4 linked regions of the Homo sapiens genome follow. The protein of the gene in region 3 purifies or fractionates together with the protein of the main gene of each other region. This does not show direct contact. Each region holds a gene or a part of one and is shown on either strand. Other genes may lie near its edges.

What was found. The genes of interacting proteins can lie anywhere in the genome.
Region 1: the proteins of ETFBKMT (region 3) and GLS purify together in Homo sapiens (affinity purification with mass spectrometry, with the first as the bait; one large-scale study listed by BioGRID). This does not show direct contact.
Region 2: the proteins of ETFBKMT (region 3) and PREPL purify together in Homo sapiens (affinity purification with mass spectrometry; one large-scale study listed by BioGRID and IntAct). This does not show direct contact.
Region 4: the proteins of ETFBKMT (region 3) and CRAT purify together in Homo sapiens (affinity purification with mass spectrometry; one large-scale study listed by BioGRID and IntAct). This does not show direct contact.

Annotation. Positions count from the first base shown.
Region 1 is NC_000002.12:190,883,821-190,887,320, reverse strand, and holds part of GLS (glutaminase kidney isoform, mitochondrial isoform 1 precursor), read right to left. Parts: intron 1-3,500. UniProt on the Homo sapiens protein: Catalyzes the first reaction in the primary pathway for the renal catabolism of glutamine. Plays a role in maintaining acid-base homeostasis. Regulates the levels of the neurotransmitter glutamate, the main excitatory neurotransmitter in the brain.
Region 2 is NC_000002.12:44,320,301-44,323,494, reverse strand, and holds part of PREPL (prolyl endopeptidase-like), read left to right. Parts: intron 1-83; coding exon 84-233; intron 234-640; coding exon 641-764; intron 765-1,057; exon of another isoform or gene 1,058-1,594; coding exon 1,595-1,668; exon of another isoform or gene 1,669-2,049; coding exon 2,050-2,139; 3' UTR 2,140-2,855; coding exon of another isoform or gene 2,856-3,194. Other genes in the region: amino acid transporter heavy chain SLC3A1, read right to left, coding at 2,856-3,194. UniProt on the Homo sapiens protein: Serine peptidase whose precise substrate specificity remains unclear. Does not cleave peptides after a arginine or lysine residue. Regulates trans-Golgi network morphology and sorting by regulating the membrane binding of the AP-1 complex.
Region 3 is NC_000012.12:31,669,688-31,673,614, forward strand, and holds the end of ETFBKMT (electron transfer flavoprotein beta subunit lysine methyltransferase), read left to right. Parts: 3' UTR 1-2,616; coding exon of another isoform or gene 2,617-2,690; 3' UTR 2,691-3,427; downstream 3,428-3,927. Other genes in the region: protein AMN1 homolog, read right to left, coding at 2,617-2,690. UniProt on the Homo sapiens protein: Protein-lysine methyltransferase that selectively trimethylates the flavoprotein ETFB in mitochondria. Thereby, may negatively regulate the function of ETFB in electron transfer from Acyl-CoA dehydrogenases to the main respiratory chain.
Region 4 is NC_000009.12:129,097,544-129,100,793, forward strand, and holds part of CRAT (carnitine O-acetyltransferase), read right to left. Parts: intron 3,147-3,250; coding exon 2,968-3,146; intron 2,424-2,967; coding exon 2,323-2,423; intron 1,108-2,322; coding exon 988-1,107; intron 829-987; coding exon 706-828; intron 606-705; coding exon 470-605; intron 1-469. UniProt on the Homo sapiens protein: Catalyzes the reversible transfer of acyl groups from carnitine to coenzyme A (CoA) and regulates the acyl-CoA/CoA ratio. Also plays a crucial role in the transport of fatty acids for beta-oxidation.

The sequences.
Region 1 (3,500 bases), on a different chromosome or scaffold from region 3:
ACTAAGTGCAGTGATGACTCACAAGTAATGTGTTTCATAACCAAAGCAATTTTGCACCTGAGTAGATTTCAGGGTAAAACTGTACTAACAGTATCTCTATGTGAAAGCTATGTACCTCACTGAGAGATATCAGTAATTAATAACTATTTTTATAAATACATCTGTTTACTCACCTTTCTTAAGCATTTCTCTTACTAGCAAATGACTTAAAGGTGAAAAGGCACAGACAGGCAACTATAAAATATAACCTTAATTTATATAGGATTTAACATGATTGAGCTCCCTCACACAAATTCTATAATTAGGCTTTCAGCTTATATGGTCATAATTTTTCTTCATTTCAAATATCACAAGAAGGAAGTAGTACAGCCTTTTACTATTACTTTCTTTTTTTTTTTTTTTTTGAGACAAGAGTCTCGCTCTGTCACCCAGGCTGGAGTGCAGCGGCATGATCTCGGCTCACTGCAACCTCCACCTCCTGGGTTCAAGCGATTCTCCTGCCTCAGCCTCCCGAGTAGCTGGGATTACAGGTGCCCGCCACCACTCCTGGCTAATTTTTGTATTTTTAGTAGAGACAGTGTTTCACCATGTTGGCCAGGCTGGTCTCAAGCTCCTGACCTCAACTGATCCACCTGCTTTGGCCTCCCAAAGTGCTGGGATTACGGGCATGAGCCACCACGCCCAGCCTGATTTCTTTTAAATAACTTTTTAAAACTCAAAGAAACCCACAAATATCTTCAGCAAATTTCTTTCAAAGTGACATTTATCTTTGGACTAAAATAGTGCCCCCCCTCCCTTTTAGCTGGCCTACATATTGCCTCATAAAAAAGGCTGAATTCTATTTGGTAGTCATTTCATGGATTAGCTGACTTTGAGGTAGGTAGACTTCTCTATAAAAGAGTAAGGTCTGGAAATATGCAGCTAAAAGTCCAGGAGACTAAACCCCTCAGAATCTAATTCTTGTTCTTTCAGTGAATTTCATCCAAATATTAATAAAACTATAAATTAACAGCATGAGTTTGTTAATTACAGATCATGGACAAAGTTATCAATGACTGATGCACATTTCAATATAAATATTAGGTCACAAAAATGTTATGACATATAGTTATTGGTACCTTTTTCACTTGCTTTTAAAAAAACAAAACTGGGCTGGGTGCAGTGGCTCACGCCTGTAATCCCAGCAATTTGGGAGGCCGAAGCAGGCGTATCACAAGGTCAGGAGGTCGAGACCATCCTGGCTGACATGGTAAATTCCCATCTTACTAAAAATACAAAAATTAGCCAGGTGTGGTGGCACGTGCCTGTAAGTCCCAGCTACATGGGGGGCTGAGGCAGGAGAACGACTTGAACCCAGGAGGCAGAGGTTGCATTGAGCTGAGATCACACCACTGCACTCCAACCTGGGTGACAGAGTGAGACTCCACCTCAAAAATAAATAAATAAATAAAAATAAAATTTAAAAAAAAAAACTAAAACTCACTGATAATCATCACCTAGAAAAAAATTTTTAATAATGAAGAAATCAAAAATAACTAAGGGGCTGCCTGAGAAGCCCAAAGGAAAAAATTAAACATACTTTCCACCTTGATTTTAGCTTAAGTGAATTGTAAATATGTTAGCTTTTAAAATTAAAACCAAATGCAATACTGAAGGATCATAAAAACATGTGCCCCCATTTTAACAGAGGTTTTGTCATTCAGTTCTAAAACTTAATATTTATATCTGCCAAATACTAACTCAACTTCCTTACTAGTATTGTTCAATCTACCCAATTCAATGTTCGCTGAAATTCATAAGCATTTCATCTTACTTTGAAATTCAATGTTCAGACCAGGTGCGGTGGCTCACGCCTGTAATCCCAGCACTTTGGGTGGCCACAGCGGGCAGATCATCTGAGGTCAGGAGTTCAAGACCAGCCCAGCCAACATGGTGAAACCCCATCTCTACTAAAAACAAAAATTAGCCACGCATGGTGGCGGGTGCCTGTAATCCCAGCTACTCGGGAGGCTGAGGCAGGAGAATGGCTTGAACCCGGGAGGCAGAGGTTGCAGTGAACCGAGATCACACCACTGCACTCCAGCCTGTGTGACAGAGCGAGACTCCATCTCAAAAAAAAAAAATTCAATTTTCAGAGTATACACCTCGATGATTTTCTTTGCCCTTCATTGTCCATAACTATCAAAACATAAAGCTGAACTATCAAAACATAAATCCATACTAACTAAAGCTAGCTGAAATCATTTTTGCTTGCATTTTTACTTTTAAATATAAATATATTTTAAAGCATGCTTATTTGTGTAATTACAAATATTTCTGAATGCCACGACTTCATGTAGATATGCAAACATCCAACTACCACATCACAGCTATGCAGTTTTTAACAGAAACTACCAAACTGCCTAAAGTAACTGAACTAATAATTTATACTTCTACTAGCAATGCTAGAGTTCCTATTTTCCCAATTACTTGATTTAACATCTGCCAATCTGAGAAGGGGAAAGTGACCTCATTGTTGTTTTAACAGAATACTTTCAATATTGCATCCTGTATGAATTATCTATTTTCTAACAACATACATATGCTGGTATTTTTCCAGCCCAATTTCTGTTATGTATCTCTTTTCCTTTCTCATTAAAAAATAAATGTCCAAATAAAAAAACTTAATAATGCCCCTTACCTCTATCCCTCTGACTCTTCCTAGGGACCATTCACTAAGATAGGATACATACTTCTGGACTTTATGGAAATAAGTATAACCAGCTTAACAGAGAAAAGTATGATAAAAATGTCCATATGGGCAAGTGCTGGCATAAACCATAACATAGTTTGTGACTTTAATATAATGCTCATTCCAGATCCTGCTGGTTTTCTGGAAGAGAGTGCTATTTTCAAATTAAAACTCTAAAATTACTCTCATAACAGTACGCAAAATAGGTTGAATTGGAGAAAAGAATGAATATCAGGGTACAGACTTAAAATTTGAAGTCATTGAATATGTGGCGACAAATTTAAGAACAGAGCTTTGGATTAAGAGGTGAAGTATTACCTACACAAAGATGAGAGTCAAAGCTGAAAGAAGGGATACGCTGTTGAGAAGGCAGACAAGTGGGAAAGGGACAAAGGCCTCAGCCTCAGGGTTTTTACCCAGTGAGGAAATTCAAAAAGAACTAGGAAAGAAGAGAGAACAATTTTGAAAACGAAGAGAGGCAAGCAAAGTTGGTTTTCAAGATAACAGAATGAACCATAACAAAATTAAATAAGATCACTAAAGACAAAACTGAGCAAAGATCATTAAATTTTTCTATGTGATATTAAGACGTTCGTATCCTAAACCACACTAAAGTTGCGTGATGGAAACAGCATAGTCTAAAGTGACATTAGTTCAAAGAGTTTGTGAAAAAAAGGTAAAGTAACTTGCTTATATCACGCCTCCTTCCAGAATATAAAGTAAATAAAATATAAACTCAGGACCAAGGAAAGGAGGAAACGCAGATATC
Region 2 (3,194 bases), on a different chromosome or scaffold from region 3:
TATATTCATAAAATAGAATGTTTTTCTGAAACTCACTTACCAACCTCTTACTTGAAGTATAAGTTTCTTTGCCTTTTTTTTAGGCACCTTTCTTGGATGTTCTCAACACCATGATGGACACTACACTTCCTCTGACATTAGAAGAATTAGAAGAATGGGGGAATCCTTCATCTGATGAAAAACACAAGAACTACATAAAACGTTACTGTCCCTATCAAAATATTAAACCTCAGGTAGTGAAAGACAATTGTGTTAGATTATCCTGAATTTACACAGAAGATAATAAAAAAAAAACTTATCCAAGCTGAAGCAAAAATAGGAGCTTTAGAGATGTTTCTACTTATGATGCCCAAATATCTTCAGCACCATCTCTGCTCATGCTCCATGTTTAATACCTCAGGGGAATAGACTTATCATGCCTTAATTACTAAATTAGCTAAGGTCCTTTAGTCAAGAAAAGGCTATTCCAGATAACAAGTAGTCTACTACTGTAATACTGAGGCGCTCTCAAGATAGCAAGTGAGAAAAAGCATAGAGCACTTACAGGGAAAAATTGGAGGTAATTATTTTTCATAGTCTCTATAGTGGCAAGGGACCATAAGAAATAATGTAAACTCTTCGTGCATGTATTTTCTTTCAGCATTATCCTTCAATTCACATAACGGCATATGAAAACGATGAACGGGTACCTCTGAAAGGAATTGTAAGTTATACTGAGAAACTCAAGGAAGCCATCGCGGAGCATGCTAAGGACACAGGTGAAGGTAGGAGACCCCCTAGAAGCAGGGAACATGGCCAAACAGACTACTACCCACAGCACACTGCTCAGAGGAATATATTTCAGGCTGTAGCCAAATCATCTGCCCAGGATTTAGGGCAAACAATTATTTTGCTATGTTGACTCCCCAGTTAAAGTGTACGTAACTACATGTCTATACATACACTGCCTCACCTCTTTTTCAAAGGACAGTATTAAAATAGATAGGCAGGACACAAAGGAAACAGGAAATTTAAGAATCAGATATAACTTGGAGATGCACTGCCATACAATTATTAATTCATTTAACAATATTTATTGAGCCGTTATTCTTGGGAATCTCTAAAAGACAGATTCTGAGATTTTTGTTTTGGGCCATCAGTGCCCAAACTGTTTAGCTGCATGAATTTCCTCTAGCTAGCTGTTTCAGCTTTATGAGATAAGAATCCCTCCCTTTTGCCTTGAAACTACATGCCATATCAGTCTCCCTGTATTCATCTCCATTTGTCACCCCCATCCATTGCTGTAGTTGGTGTTTCCAGGGCATAAGACTCTCAGATTCCACAGGGCAGGTTGATGATCTCCTGGGTTTCAACCTTGTCCGTGTGGCACCATATAGTCTTTTCCATACGGCCTCTTCCTGCTTTCGCTGTGTCAGAAGTTTGTCTTCTGTTGCTTGTCCCCTCCCATCTTTTTGTTGATGATGGTGGTTTTTGCTTTTTATTCCTTTACTATTATTTGAACTGAGTACTCAAAGAAGAGGGGAGGAATGGGTCTCGATCTTCCAAAGAAGATCCCATACAATCTTCTAATTGTTCTACATGTTAACTCTTCCAGGCTATCAGACCCCTAATATTATTCTAGATATTCAGCCTGGAGGCAATCATGTAATTGAGGATTCTCACAAAAAGGTATGTTATCAAGGCCCTCTCAGTGGACAGATTCCCGAACTAGATACATGTTGTTTTCACATTTTCAGTGGTTGCAGCAGGTTTATGACAAAGCCACTTCACAAATGTCCTATCTATGGGTGAGACCCAGGAGGGGAGGGAGGGACACTGTGTCAATCAAGAGAAATGTCTCTCTCTTGTACTTGATACGTGAGCTCTGTTAAAGAAAATAATTTAATCTTAATTGTTGGAAGCCTTCTGCCTCTCTCTCGAATGAAAGTATTCTTGCCATAAATTGCTGACTTCACGGTTAGGTAAAGATGGATAGATAAAGAGAAGCTTAAACAGTGGCATTTTACTACAAAGGCCTTCTATTTAATTTTTTTAATGTGTTTCTTTTAGATTACAGCCCAAATTAAATTCCTGTACGAGGAACTTGGACTTGACAGCACCAGTGTTTTCGAGGATCTTAAGAAATACCTGAAATTCTGAAACACTGCATTCAACTGGGAATTGGAAACACACTGAAATATTTCATAGTCTTACTTCCAATTGAGTTAGCAAAAAAAAAATTAATAACTTGAGACTTTTAAGTTATTAATTTTTTAAAATGTGCTTCTCCATCTAAATTTTGCTTAGTCTACATCTCACTTGCTTATACTATTCTCTCCATTGATGCACATGCCCATTAACCTAGGAAAGTAATTTTCAAATCATGCTCCTTAGAAGGATGTGGAGTAGAGGGAAGGGAAGGATTGGTGATAGCAGAGCTCCAGGCCTCCCTTCCAGTCAGAACAGTTGAGCAGTTTACAAATTAGTGTCCTGCCTCTTTGCTAGCAAATGCTTTTAGACACTGTGGCAGTGAGTCATCCTCTAATTTCTATGACTGCATTTTAAGGGAAAAGATAAAATTCTTCCCCTTAAAATTCGTTAAAGTTTTTGAATAATCTGGGGTCCTAATGTGTTCTGGTCATCCCTGATTGATGCTATCTGAATAAAGTTATAAGCTCCTATAAGCCATAATTTACTTTTAAACATTTTATTTTTTTCAAAACATTTGAGAACCTTTCTTAAAGCAGTTACATTCAAGCTACAGAAATATCGAAGAATTAATGATTGTTCACCAAGCAGCATGCTGTACATGAAGCTATTACAAATGCTTACAATCCCACTGAAATGCCAGTGTCTTCATCTCTTCATAAAGGTGCCTAACACGAGGTATACAGTATGTTCAGTACACTGGAATAGCATGCTCGATTGGAAACAAAGCATCTATCTCTGAAAGCTGTTTGGCGATGAAGGAGATTCTTCGTGTTGTGTTCAAAGATGAGTCCCTCTCCCTTGTCCAGAAAAATGCCACTTGTATCAACTTTACTGCCTTTGTCGGCAGAATTGGTACTTAACCTTATTCTCATTTTAGCGGGAAGGCCCGAAATCATATTATGTAGATTTAACAGTGTTGATTCTCCAAAATTCAGAACCACGATAAAGATTCTGTCGATGCCATCCAGCTCTCTTGTGTACACAACATAGTGGCTGTCATTCCT
Region 3 (3,927 bases):
ACAAAGTTTAATTGAGCAAAGAACAATCTGTGAATTGGGCAGCTCCCAAAAGCAGAATAGGTTCAGAGTGACTGCAGGGTTGCCACACCTGGTTAGATAACGTTTATGGACAGATTCCTAGAGCTTTTGATTCTTTTTTTTTTTTTTTTGAGGCAGAGTTTCACTCTTATTGCCCAGGCTGGAGTGCAATGGCGTGATCTTGGCTCACTGCAACCTCCACCTCCTGGGTTAAAGTGATTCTCCTGCCTCAGCCTCCTGAGTAGCTGGGATTACAGGTATACACCACCAAACCCAGCTGGGATTACAGGCATGCACCACCATGCCCAGCTAATTTTTGTATTTTTAGTAAAGACAGGGCTTCGCCATGTTGGCCAGGCTGGTCTCGAACTCCTGACCTCAGGTGATCCACCTGCCTCAGCCTCCCCAAGTGCTGGGATTACACGTGTGAGCCACTGTGCCAGGCTGGAGCTTTTGATTCTTAAGTCCATCCACATGGAGCCTCCAGCAACTCAGGAATTACAGCATAAATGTTCCTATTGGTACTGGCTCCAGCAACAGGCTTCTGCTCCCTGTAAGCTATGGTTCTTTGTATTTGCGTTTCTAATTTGTGAGGCATTCTCTCTTTAACCTTAATTCTCTAATGGATCTAAGTGTTGTTGACTTTTCAGTTTATTGAGCTTTTTTCTTATTGTGAGGATGGGAATGATGACTTCCAATCTCTTTATATTAGAAAATATAAATCAGACTAGAGACTGGAAATTTTTGTTGTTGTTGTTGGGTGTTTTGTTTTGTTTGTTTTTAGACAGGTCTTGCTCTCTCATCCAGGCTGGAGTTCAGCAATGCGACCGTGCTCACTGCAGCCTCGACTTTCTAGGCTCAGGTAATCCTCCCACTTCAGCCTCCTTAGTAGCTAGGACTGTAGGCATGCACCACCATGATGCCTGGCTAGTTTTTTTATTTTGTATTTTTTGTAGACATGGAGTCTTGCTACATTGGCCAGGCTGGGTATTACTGGGTATTTCTTTCTTTCCTCCTTTATTTCTTTCCATATTTACTTATTCAATGAATATTTGAGTGCTTATTATATACCAGGCACTGTTCTAGGCACTGGGGATATGGGGATACAGCAATGAAAAAAAAAGATAAATACTTTGTCCTTATGAAATTTGTATTCTAGAGTAGGGAGACATAATGAACAAATGAAAACAGGCATCAGATGGTGATAGGTAGTAAGGAGAAAAAGAAGTAAGGGTAATAGGGAATACTGGGTACTGGATGGGGTACAGATATTTTAAACAGAGTGGTGAGAAATAGTTAATACAGCTAGCAACATAAAAAAGGAGAAATATCAAACTGCAAACTGTTTTAGGAAGATAAATCCTTCATAGACCCAAAGAAGCTCACAATTTAGATGTCGAAACTAGTTTCTGCAAAAAGGGGAAAATGTGATTGACTTGGTTAAATATTCAGTATTAAATTTTATTGAATTTGTCTTTAGAAAAATTTCATAGTTAGAACAGGCCTTACCCATTTTGCACATATATACATATGCACCACCTTTGCAGTGGCAACATATATATCCACACTATAAACATACCACATTTATAAATCTTGTAAGGACAAGAAATGGAGTTGAATAAGTACCCCCCAACATATACAAGAAAGTTAGCATACTTACCCCGTTTTTCACTACATCAGAGGCAAAATAAGAAATCTTTTAAGAAAATCTCAAGACTGGCTCATGGCAAAATGAATATGCTAAATTTGGGGGTTGGTTTAAGCGTGGTATGTGTCAGGTAATTTTGTGATTACCAAAAAGTTTTCACTTGAAAACTAAGACCTTTGCTGTTTATTTCACAATGTGAAATCAATAAACCTGAGGATACAAGTCTCTGTAGTGATATTCTGTATTTACTCATTTTTACACATTTTTGAATGCAATTTTGCTAAGGAAGGAAAGCTTACAGATGCATAAAATGTAACTGGGAAGAGTAGCCATAAAAATCAATGAATGGATGTGGCTGGGCAAGAGCCTCTGTAATACTAATACGCTGAATGGCTAATAAGTCACTTCATTTCGGTGAAACAAATACCTAAATTCTTTGAAGAATTAACAGGCTTGATGTTCAGGTCTGCTTTTGGCAAATGGGCATTTAAATACTCCAAGAAGGTAAGAGCCAGAAAATAGGAAGGTAACTATGCTTTTAGAAATATGTTTACTTAGATTCTCCCAAGGTTTATACTTACAGGTAAACTTAGAACAATAGCTCAAATACCTACATAGGAGAAGGAAATCTCAAGGGAAAACAGTTAATTTTAAAGTTATTTAAGAAACAGAATCCAACACCATAGATCAGAGTTCATGCTAGGATTATCATTTCAAAAATAATGACTCATCCAACAGATATAGAATAATAGCACTTTAAAGATGTTTAAGAGTAAAGCACAAACCATGTATATACCAAGACTTAGCTAATTCTCTGAGAGTTATAACTTAAGACAATAAAATAATTAAAAATAGTGTTAACATTAAGTAGAATGCAAATCTCTATAGATGGTTTCCTGGGAAAGTAGTTTTGATAAGCTTTCCTAGCATTGATCATCTTCAAAAAAGCATCAATAAACAGTCCATGTCACTTGCTTTAGTTTGTTTGGGCCTACTAATTGCTCCAACACTTCTCGGGAATGATCTATAAAAGAAAACAATGACAATATATTAATTGACAATAAAAAATGTTTAATGTTTCCTCATGTCTAACTGGAGGTGATGTTAATTATTATACAGTTATTTAAAGGATTAAAGGAGGTGATCTATAAAGCACAATATACAACTAACTCACTAATAATTAATTAATGGTAGCCCTCACTATTATTAGGTGTAGTGCACCTATCATGGTATTACTTGTTTAAAAAAAAAAAACAGGCATTTGTTGTTTTCTCTGTAATTTCATCATAATTCCACCAACCAGAGTAATGGTCTAATTTCACCATTAACCTGTGTTAATGGTTAATAACTTTTTTCAGGATCTTAGCCGGAAATAGATGATTCACTAAAGTGGGGTGACTGAACAGCATTTAATGAAGGGAATATTTACCAAAAAAGTAGGATTAAAGAAAGCCAATAGGTACGGTAAACCACCTTGGGAAGCTGCAACACACCCAAAGGGTTAAAGGAGGTAGTAGTCACCGAACGTGACAAGTTGACCTGTAGCTGAACATTTTTCCATGTCTGTATAATACTACTATAAAGCATGATTTTAAATAGATAACCATTATATAAATACACTGTAATTTAACCAATCTATATTATTGGACATTTAGATGTTTTCAGTTTTTCACAATGTACAGTCGTGATTTTGATATGGTTTCCATCCTAGTTTTAGGATGTCTTTTAAAAATCTGAATTAAAGCAAAAATACTGATAAAATTTTGTTAGTTTAAATATTACTCATAAGTTTAATAAACTTGTTTCCATAGATACAACCTATGTTTTATGTACAACATATCTCTAACCTAGTCTTGGAAATCCTGTAATTTGGTGGTTCCTAGACAGATTTCACAGACCAGTAGAAAAAAAAAAAAAGATGGGCCCAACATATACAGTGACAAAATTTTATTTTAAGTTTAACAAAATTAAGCAAAAATACCAAGGTTTATTGCCAGCAAGAGAACCAGAGAGTGTATAGAAATGAAAAGTTATTATCATTGGGAAAACAAAGGTTTACAATTTTTTAAAAAAGCAGCTAGTAAGATAAATGCAGTTTTATTCATGGTCATAAAAATATTATTGGTTATTGTAGAGGAAATCTCAATCAAAGATAGATTCAAATTATGTTGAAAGTAAAAGAATGGACAAAGACATACCATTTAAATGGCAACCATGACAAAGCTGGGTGGCTATAGAAGAAGGGGGAAACACTTTCCAAC
Region 4 (3,250 bases), on a different chromosome or scaffold from region 3:
ACTAAAAATACAAAAATTAGCCGGGCATGGTGGCAGGCACCTGTAGTCCCAGCTACTTGGGAGGCTGAGGCAGGAGGATTGCTTGAACCCGGGAGGTGGAGGTTGCAGTGAGTCGAGATCACACCACTGCACTCCAGCCTGGGCAACAGAGTGAGACTCTTTCTAAAAAAAAACAAGAAAAAAAAAGAGCGAGTATTGCAACTACCAACTCCTTGGTCCTCAGCCAGGGCCTGACATAGGGCAGTTGCTTACTGCCAATGAATAAATGAATGAACAAATGAATGACTCCCTTTTCCTCTTTGGTCCCCAGGAAGCTCAGAGCTAGATTCACGGCTCCAGCTTCTGTTAGATTCCCCGTGCCCACCATGGGGCTGGAATCCTGTAGGTGCTCAATTATTGTGTGTTGACTGAGTGAGCAGGAGGGAGGGGCTCAGGCCCAGCTCACCCACCCTCGCCCCAGACCTCTCACCGTGACGCTGGAGTCATCCATGGCCTTGACAAAGGTGAGTGAGTCCATGGAAGCCGAGCGGATGGTGTCGGTGCGGCCCAGGTGAAACATGCGCAGGGAGGCACTTTCATAGGTGGCACATGCCTGTCCGTAGATCCTGGTGGGAAATGGGGCTAAGCACGCCCCTTGGAGGCGGGCACCCCCTCCCCTGCCCCCAGGTCTCCTCCCTCCTCCATGGGTGGGCCACAGAGGCGCACCTGTAGTAGGCCAGCTGCAAAGCCATCTGGATGAAGGCATCTGGGCTTAGCTTCTCCGACTTGGGGAAGTCTTTTCCAAAATGGTGGAACACCATCACGGTGATATCCAGGTCCTGGATCATGCTGGGGGTGTGGGAAGAGCAGGTGAGGAGCAGGCCCCGGCAGCCCCTGCCAACCCCACGGAGGGTCTGGGTGTCATGACAGAGCTGGCACAGGAGCCTCTCAAGCTCAAGGGCCTGGCCTCACCCATCCAGCACAGGGATGGCGGGGGCAGGCACTTACATGCTGAGGTTCTGCTTGGCCTTCTCGATGTCGCTCTTGATCTCGGGGGTGATGTTGAACCGCAGCTTCTTGGGCATGGGCAGGGGCACCAGGGGAGACCGCACAAGCTCGGGTTTCTTCCTGCACAGTAAACGGGGCCTCAGGCTCATGCTGGTGCCTCTAGAGCCTGGGTCCATTCTGGGACCAGGGTGGGGAGGATGGGTACCTGAAGCTGGAGGGGGCCAGCCCAGGGAGGTGTGAGTTTGTTCTGAAAACCACCCTCACTTCAGCTTTTTTTTCTTTTTTCTTTTTTTTTTTTTTTTAGATGGAGTCTTGCTCTGTTGCCCAGGCTGGAGTGCAGTGATGTGATCTCAGCTCACTGCAACCTTGGCCTCCCTGGTTCAAGCGATTCTCCTGCCTCAGCCTCCTGAGTAGCTGGGATTACAGATGCCCGCCACCTTGGCTAATTTTTTTCTTTTTCTTTTGAGACAGAGTCTTGCTCTGTCACCCAGGCTGGAGCAATGGAACGATCTCGGCTCACTGCAACCTCCACCTCCTGGGTTCAAGTGATTCTTGTGCCTTAGCCTCTTGAGTAGCTGGGATTACAGGCACCCACCACCACGCGTGGCTAACTTTTTTTTTTTTTTTTTTGAAACAGAGTCTCATTCTGTCACCCAGGCTAGAGTGCAATGGTGTGATCTCAGCTCACTGCAACCTCTGCCTCCCGGGTTCAAGCGATTCTCCTGCCTCAGCCTCCCAAGTAGCTGGGATTACAGGCACCCGCCATCATGCCTGGCTAATTTTTGTAGAGACAGGGTTTCACCATGTTGGCCAGGCTGGTCTTGAACTCCTGACCTCAGGTGATCCGCCTCCCAAAGTGCTGGGATTATAGGCATGAGCCACTGCACCTGGCCTAATTTTTTTTTTTTTTTTTTGAGACAGAGTCTTGCTCTGTCACCCAGGCTGGAGTGCAGTGGCACAGTCTCCGCTCAACGCAACCTCTGCCTCCTGGGTTCAAGCAATTCTCCTGCCTCAGCCTCCTGAGTAACTGGGATTATAGGCATGTGATACCACACCTGGGTAATTTTTTTTTTTTTTGTATTTTTAGTAGAGATGGCATTTCACCATGTTGGCCAGGCTGATCTCAAACTCCTGACCTCAATTGATCCTCCCACCTCAGCCTCCCAAAGTGTCAGGATTACAGGCGTGAGCCACCATATCTGGCTGGCTTCCTTGGAAAAAAACAGATTCCCAGGCACAAAGGAGAGTGATATTTCTCTATAAGCTGGTCTATCACCTGTGTGTCACCTGTCACTAGAAGCTGGGGAACTAGGCGAGAGATGTGACTGTACTCACGTGTACTCGATGACATAGTCCAGAAGGGTGACAATAGGGGGCCCCTCCGCTGCAGCATGCTCGTACACAAGCCCACAGGAGCCATCTTCTGCCACGATGAACTGTGGAAGGGAAGGGAGACCCCGGTCAGCCCCAGGGCCCTGGGGGGTGGCCCCTCACCCAACCACTCTTTGGTTGAGGCAAGGGCCTCTCTGAAGCCATCTCAAGGGGCTATGATGACTTATTACTGTTATTAACAATAGCTGACACTCACCAGGTGCCCTGGTGTGCTAAGCACATCCCACGCTCAGCGTGCCTGACTGAGTCCTTCAAACTACTCTACCGGTGAGGTTGACCATCACCCCATTTTACAGGTGTGGAGAGGGACTGTTGTGCCAGGATTGCACTGGTGACCCCGGATCCCAGGTTCTCTGTGAGGTGCTGAGGGGGTGTGCTGGGGGTGACAGCGGTTTCCAGGCCAGAGGCAGGACTGGTGATGACAGGCTGGCTGCCTGGTAATTACGGCAGCGTCCAGCCTGCTGGCTTCCTGCCTGCTTTACAAGCTAGGAGGCTGGGGACGCAGGGCCGGGGACGGGCAGGAAGTCCCGAGGCTGCAGAGGTCCTGTTCAGGTGTGTGTGAGTGGGCGAAGCCCTGCCGGGCCTCACCTGCAGCGTCTTGTCGAACCAGCGGTTGCCGCTGTTGAGCCTGCTGCCGCCCCCATGCAGCATCTGGCCTGCCACGTGGCTGCGGTACACGTCTTCTGAGACCCTGGGCATGGTTGCATCTAGGCACACGGTGAAGATGCTCTTCTGGATGGAGCGCACGGAATCCCGGTTCACCTTGTCTGCAGGTGGCATGGGGCGGGGAGACGCAAAATGGGGTCTCATGGTGTGGGAGAGATGGACCAGCCCCTCCGCAGCCTCCTGCCCTGGGCTCTTCTGACCCATT